2 linked regions of the Homo sapiens genome follow. The protein of the gene in region 1 interacts with the protein of each later gene in a pairwise test. Each region holds a gene or a part of one and is shown on either strand. Other genes may lie near its edges.

What was found.
Region 2: the proteins of AFP (region 1) and EHD4 interact in a two-hybrid assay, tested with the Homo sapiens proteins (one large-scale study listed by BioGRID and IntAct).

The regions. Positions count from the first base shown.
Region 1 is NC_000004.12:73,453,219-73,456,998, reverse strand, and holds the end of AFP (alpha-fetoprotein isoform 1 precursor), read right to left. Parts: intron 3,235-3,780; coding exon 3,102-3,234; intron 1,764-3,101; coding exon 1,719-1,763; 3' UTR 1,709-1,718; intron 1,369-1,708; 3' UTR 825-1,368; downstream 1-824. UniProt on the Homo sapiens protein: Binds copper, nickel, and fatty acids as well as, and bilirubin less well than, serum albumin. Only a small percentage (less than 2%) of the human AFP shows estrogen-binding properties.
Region 2 is NC_000015.10:41,913,551-41,917,376, forward strand, and holds part of EHD4 (EH domain-containing protein 4), read right to left. Parts: intron 1-3,826. UniProt on the Homo sapiens protein: ATP- and membrane-binding protein that probably controls membrane reorganization/tubulation upon ATP hydrolysis. Plays a role in early endosomal transport.

The sequences.
Region 1 (3,780 bases):
AGGTAGGAGGATCTTTTGAGCCCAGGATTTTGAGACCAGCTGGGCAACATAGCAGATTCCAATTCAAAAAAAAAGAGAAGAAGAACCGAAAGCACATTTTATTGCTCTAAAGCCATTGTCTTCTCCCAGAGCCCAGGCCAAAGTATGCATGTAATTTTCAGATTTCTATTCAAAGCTAAGAAGATAAACAGCTTCCCTACTGGGGGAATGGTCTTTTTGTCACCTCTTGCTGACTTTGCCCCCTCTACCCTTTTCCCTGCCCCATTGCCCATGCTCCGTATCTCATAGATTATCTTCCTCAAAGCTAATTATTAATAGCACACCTCTGCTTAGCTATCACTGTGGTCCTCTGTTACTCATAAGATATTGTCCAACCTCTTTAGAATAGAGCGCTGAGAGTCTGGATTAGCCCTTCATAGCTTCCACATCCTGCCTAACATTCTACATCTCTACCCTTCCTACCTACCCTGTACTCCTCTAAAACTATTCATCATACTTTGTCATACCCAGTACCTCTGACCATGTTTCCTCTTTCATAAAATGGCCTTCTCTTTTACTTGAACTGATGAATGCTCATTCATTTTCTAAGACTCTTCTTAAACATTTATGGCACCTTTTCCAGTCAGAACTGATGTCACCCACCCTTTCGTTCCCTCAACAATTTGTTGTCAACTCCTTGTGGTCATAATCTGAGGCATCATTATTGTGTTGCTTCCTTCTCTACTGAAGCGACTGGAGAACAGTGACTGTACCCAGCCCAAGGCCTGGAACTCAGTGAAGGCTTAATAAACATTTGTGGAATAAAAATTTAATTGATGAAAACATTAATTATATTCAATCAAAACTGTAATATTCTTATGTTTTAAAATGTCTGTGAATAGAGAACTGAACAAGATTGAGAAAAAAAGTAGATGTTAAATTTTCTTAGATCCCATAGAAGAATAATAATTTCTTTTCTCATCTCCAGATTATCTGTTAGAATACTTCAGTGATGGTCATTTAATAAACAAAATGCCCTGGTAGCATCAAATAGTGTTTAACTTGGGAACATTTTTCAGTTCACCAAGTGATCTAGTGCTGTAAATCCATCCTTGGATAGCTTTAATCTCCTATAATAACCAACACTTAATGCTATTTTAACAGAATCTGCTTCAGACAATGGTATACAAAACTAAAGAAATTATCGATAACTTTTCATAAATAAGCAAACTTGGAAAAGGAAACATTTGGAGATATTTTATTTCTGTGATAAGGAAATCTCACATAAAAGTCTTTATCATTTCATTAATTCACAAAAAGTGTTAAATCAGTTAAAATTAAAGAGAAAAGTTCACACCGAATGAAAGACTCGTTTTGTCTTCTCTTCCCCTGCAATATGAGCAAAAATATATTAAATACTAATTAAACTAATAGGTGCAGTAAGTAACTGGTTCTATTATTTTATATCAGAGAAATATTGGATACGTAGGAAAGTCTTCTGATAGCATTTGTTGAAGTCTTTTAAATAACCAAAAAGGATTTTGCATAGTTGAGCCACTAATTTAACATTGTGTGCGTAATTTTGTTCAAGTGTTTTTAAAATAAACTTTTTTTTGAATTCCATGTATTTTTAAGAGAATTAATGGCACTCCTCATGATCTATCTCATTATGGATTGATATTTCTGGAGAAACAACATTGTATTCAGGCTTGTCTGAATGTTTTGTTACCTGAAGTAATTTAAACTCCCAAAGCAGCACGAGTTTTTGAAATCAGTTTTTGTCCCTGAAAATTAAGAATAAACATAATCAGATAAAGAAATGGATTATTATACCAATCATACAGTTAACACTCTACAATCCGGGGTGAATTCATAGGTTTGTAGATTAACTAAGTTAAAAATGAAGAAACACATCTCTGATGCCAACAACCTGGGATAGTAAAAGCCAGGGAGAAAACAATATTCTTTCACATCAACAGTTTTCTTCTATAACAATCTCCAAATCAATGCGTATTCTCAATCTTTCCCCTTCCTCTACAAATTACAAGTTATTAGAAATTAAAAGGTTTGCAGATAAAGCACTGCTACTATTTGTTCATGTTCTCTATATCTAAATAAATGTCTTCTCAGATTAGAGAACATTAATCTTCTTGTGTCATGTTTTTCAGAAATGCTTCACATCAAATCTGTTTCACCAGTTTTATCTAATTTGGTTATCTATGTCCCACCCTACCTGATCCCACCAAAAACACACACATATACTGGTAAGTGCACACACTCAAATGCATCTAATTATATTATTTATAGAAAAACTCTACATTTCTAAATATATCTGTCTTTGGATTTTACATGGTGAGAAAGGTAAAATTGACAAAAACGCTAAGTTATAGAATATCTTTTTAAAGTATAGTGTTGCTATATTCAAATATATGTAGCAATACAAACTAAAGATTTGTAAAATTTAGCCAATTATCTTGATTGTGATAATCATTTCACAATGTATAAATATATTGAAACATCACATGTTCACCCTAAACATATATAATTTGTATTTGTCAATCATGCCTCAATAAAGCTGAAAAAAGGTAATTTTTTTAAATGTTAGGTAGAATCCCCTGGTTAAAGAAAATCTGGCTAATTATCCAGCTAAAATTACTATGTAATTAAAATAACTCCTAAATACTACTCTGTTGATGTACAAAAGCAAGCTTCTAAATGAGTTCAAAAACATTTTCTACAAATAGACTCCTAATACTCTGTTTGCACAATTAATTTGCTATTAAATCCTTTAATCCATTTAGCTGAATTGATCAATTTTAGGCCAGAAACTATCTAAATTACCGTCAATTATTTACACATTCACTTTATGGGTTTCTCTACTAGGAAATAAATTAAAATTACTAATTCTATTAATATATTTTAATATTATAAATTTTCCTAATATTAAGCAAGAAAATGTGATTATTTTTTAAATCTTATAGAATCCCTCAATCTGCTTCTCAATGAAATTTAAATCTCTCTGAAAATATTTTAAAGTTATAAATTTGTAGGGTCTTCCTTTCATTATCCACTACAGAAAATTCCATAGCAAGTATTTTGAGTATGAAATGAGCTGCATGTACCTCTTCAGCAAAGCAGACTTCCTGTTCCTGGCCTTGGCAGCATTTCTCCAACAGGCCTGAGAAATCTGCAATGACAGCCTCAAGTTGTTCCTCTGTTATTTGTGGCTTTTGCTTCACAAGGTTAATGAGAAACCTGTGATTTAAAACAAAACAAAATACAAGAGAAGTCTGTTATGCAATGCTATTTTTCTACAGCCTTCCTAGTAGAGAATTTTCAGAGCCTAAACCCTTACTCCATCAACCTATCACCAGACTGACCACACACACCTTGTCTAGTACTTTCAGTAGAAAGATTGAGGCTGAAAGCATGCCAAGTGTTCCACCAGCCTGGAGTTGTGCAGGTTGTGGATAAAACACTATTTCATACTTGACCATACTTATGTGTAGTGGAAGGCAATCTCCCCTCATCCCCCAGGAATATCCTTTCCTGTCCGCTCTTCTTAACTGTGTCTTATCTACACTCAAAGACCCAGATCTCCGAATCCTGCCCATCCAGTTATCACACCCCTTATCTGGGCACTGGCAGCACTAATTGCCTGCACTGCTCACTTAGCAAGCCTTTCATGTTGGACTTAGACCAGAGCAATAGAAAGTAGACCAGAGCAATAGAAAAAGCTTGCCAGAACAGGCAACATTCTTATCATACTGTGAAACATACCTCAGACTGTGATAGAGGAAA
Region 2 (3,826 bases), on another chromosome or scaffold:
CATTCATCTCACAGAGTTATTATGAGAATAAAAGAGGTCATGTATTTGAATGCACTCTGCTCACTAGAAAGAGGAGCAAATGTTAACTTGTTATCAACTAATGGCCAAAGACCAACAGCTGGAGGTACAGTAATGAGAGAGAGGGCTCCCGGCTGGTTACTCCTTACCAAATAATTAATAAACTCTCTCTATTTAAATAGTAATATAATGAATTTGGGTTCCAAGTGTTTAATTTACATTGACCCCTGGGGGCTTTTGAACATTCGTATCTTGTTCAAGTCATCCTTTGCCTTGTGTAAACTTGCAGAAGCCCTAAGGCATCTAATGGGGATGACTGGGGGAAATCAAATGGATCAAAATGACAAAATGACAATTTTTCTCTAGGCTAATAACTCAATGAGCAGAAAGGAAAGTCCTTCCTTTTAAATGTATATGAATGTATATGTAGTTCACACGTACACTCTGACACAGATCTCATTGTGTCCAATGATGTGTGTGTGTGTGTGTGCCTCCAAGACTGAGACACATGTACTAAAGAGTGATACTGGCCACATCTACTCTGGGCTTGGAGGGTAACTTCAGCGAGTGCTGGATGCTGGAAGCGACCAGTGCTGGAATGAAAAGCTTCATGGAATGTGAGGATCAGGCAGTAGTTTGGGGAAGGCGGGCTGGGAAGGCATGGTGACACACTGTGCCACGCTCATCTGCAAACTTAACGCAACCTGCTGGAGACCTGCGGCTGGAAGCCCAGCTCTGGAAACCTGCATAGAGTATTTAAAGCCAGGGTATCAGCACGTTTATAAAGTGGGTTTATGATAATATAAAAAATTCAGTTAATAAGCCTGAGACCCAAAAGATGAACCCATGGGGTAACAAGAGTGTGAGACTGTGAGAGGCAGAGAAGGGCAGCTGACTTGAGCAAGGGTTTGTTATTCTGCTCAGATCAAAACTGGCACCAATGGCACGTGTAATTCCGTGCAGCCTTAAAGGGGACCGGAGGGGGCTGCACACTTGTCTGAGGTCAACCTTCAAAGAGACAGGCTTCCATTTATGGGCTCAAGCACTGACACACACACATCCACAGTAGCTCAGGGCTGCTGACTGAGTTATTTTTAGAGCCCTGCCGAGGACTAGGCAATACCAGGATCTTCATGATCCATTATATCATGATTCTCACACGCTTTAGCCTGAATCCATTTGGTGCACAAAAAATGCCTCATTTCTTTACAGGAGAATTTTTTTTTTTTTTTTTTGAAATGGAGTCTTGCTTTGTCGCCCAGGCTGGAGTGCAGTGGCACGATCCTGGTTGACTGCAACCTCCAACTCTTGGGTTCAAGTGATTCTCCTGCCTCAGCCTCCTGAGTAGCCAGGATTACAGGCGCCCACCTCCACGCCCAGCTAATTTTTGTATTTTTTGTAATTTTTTTGTAATTTTTTTTGTAATTTTTGTATCCAGCACTTGCTGAAGTTACCCTCCAAGCCCAGAGTAGATGTGGCCAGTATCACTCTTTAGTACATGTGTCTCAGTCTTGGAGACACACACACACACACACACACACACATCATTGGACACAATGAGATCTGTGTCAGAGTGTAAGTGTGAACTACATATACATTCATATACATTTAAAAGGGAGGACTTTCCTTTCTGCTCATTGAGTTATTAGCCTAGAGAAAAACTGTCATTTTGTCATTTTGATGACATTTAGTAGAGACGGGGTTTCACCATGTTAGCCAGGCTGGTCTCGAACTCCTGACCTCAAGTGATCTGCCCGCCTTGGTTTCCTGAAGTGTTGGGATTACAGGTGTGAGCCACCGTGCCCAGCCTATAGACAAGAAAGCCAGGCTGTGCACATCACATGTGACTGAGAAGAGTCTACATTTGAAAGAATAAGCTAAATTCCACAGAACTACAGTGAACCTTGAAAATCACTGACCTCTCCTCTTCTTTCTCAGTTTTACTTGTTTCTTCCTCAAATGTTGCCTCATTTTTGTTGAGCAAAGATCTCCAAATGGGTGACAGCCTTTCCTATTCTTGGGCAATACGCTTCTAAAGGGTGGGGTCTGATAGTGAACTTGCATTGTTTGGGATTTGTATGAGTCTAATTTCTTTAATTTGGCTATTTTAATTATAGCTGAATAAAAGTAAATGACATGTTCCAAACCCTTTTTTGGGCTTTCCCAAAACAGCTTCCTTTAAAGAATCATGAAATGAACCCTGATTGGCATCTCAGAGTGTGAGCCGTCTTCCAAGAAGGATGTCTACTGAGATTGTAAGAAGTGATCTTTGAGGCTAACCAAAAACCCACTCTAAAGTTTCCCTGTTCCTTAAATACAGAGATGTGAAAAAAATATACAAACAGAAAAAGAAGGGAAATAAACTTCAAGAGCTCTTTGGGAAGAGTATCTATCTACTTTTCATATTATTAAAATGTCACCTTTATGACACTTCGAGTTTGATTAAAACGGCGCACTTGCTTTATCTGGATGGGCCATGAATCCTGGTTAATTATGGTGTTCTATAAATAAACATACTCCACAACCCAACTCAGACTTGACATCTCTTAGCTGACATCTGAAAACTTACCCTTTGCATGTTTTCAAAGTGTCAGCTTGATAAACCTAAACTTTGTAGGGTTTCTGTGGATGGAGACTTTTATGGAATAAATAGATTAACAGATCAGTGCAGAAAACAAGGACACAGGGAGGAGGTACTGTAGCTGCTGTTCACTCCCGATTTCAGGTGACTGCTTTCTGGACTGAGGTGTCACACTGACCGAGGTTTGAACGTATACTTTGCAGCTTACAGGCTGTGAAGCCTCGGGGACATAACTTCACCTTTCTGAGCTTCCGTTCCCTCAGGTGGGAAATGAGGACAAAAATGCCCAACTGTGTAGTTGTCAACAGGATCAAACAAAAAAACACACATAATGCAGACTACAGAGCTTTGGAACAGTTGGTGTGAAAAAGGAAAACTGGATCAAGAGAAAGGTTAATAAACCAAAATAAAAGCACTTTTGGAAAATATAAACACTCCAAAAAGAAAAACTCAGGTAAGCATCTGTCCATTTAAGCAGAAACAAGTTCAGCGGTGGAACATGAAACTGCAGGTGGCGTGAGGTCAATGTCATGAGTTAGTGGCCAAGGCCGCCGTGCTGAGTCCGGCTTCTCCTCCGGGTGAGCCCGCTTCCTGTCCCCGTTCCTCAGCATGGCACTGCCCACGAGCAACTGGCACTGAGAAGCTCCGGCTGCAAATACCCATACTTCAAACATTTTCCTTTGTGAAAAGGAACAAGCCAGATACTATTCTTAGGAAGAAAAAAACCACAAGCCTTTTTCCTGCAAGTAAGCTCAGCAAGTTTGACCGTCCCCCACTCCCTGCATCCACACAAGGGTTTTCATTATTCACAGTGTCAGAATACAGAGCAGCGTTCTGTGCCTCCAAACCCAGGCCGCGCTGGCCCGTTCAGAGGGCCCGAGGCTCAAGGATGGCAGGGAAGCTCTACGGGTTAAGGCGCTTGGCATTTCCAGCGAGCTTTCTGCTCCTTATTTATTTATTTATTTATTTATTTATTTATTTATTTATTTGAGACAGAGTCTCACTCTGTCGCCTAGGCTGGAGTGCAGTGGCACGATCTTGGCTCACTGCAACCTCCACCTCCTGGGTTCAAGCGATTCTCCTGCCTCAGCCTCCTGAGTAGCTGGGATTACAGGTGCCTGCCACCATGCCTGGCTAATTTTTGTATTTTTAGTAGAGACGGGGTTTCAATATGTTGGCCAGACTGGCCTTGAACTCCTGACTTTGTGATCCACCCGCCTCCGACTC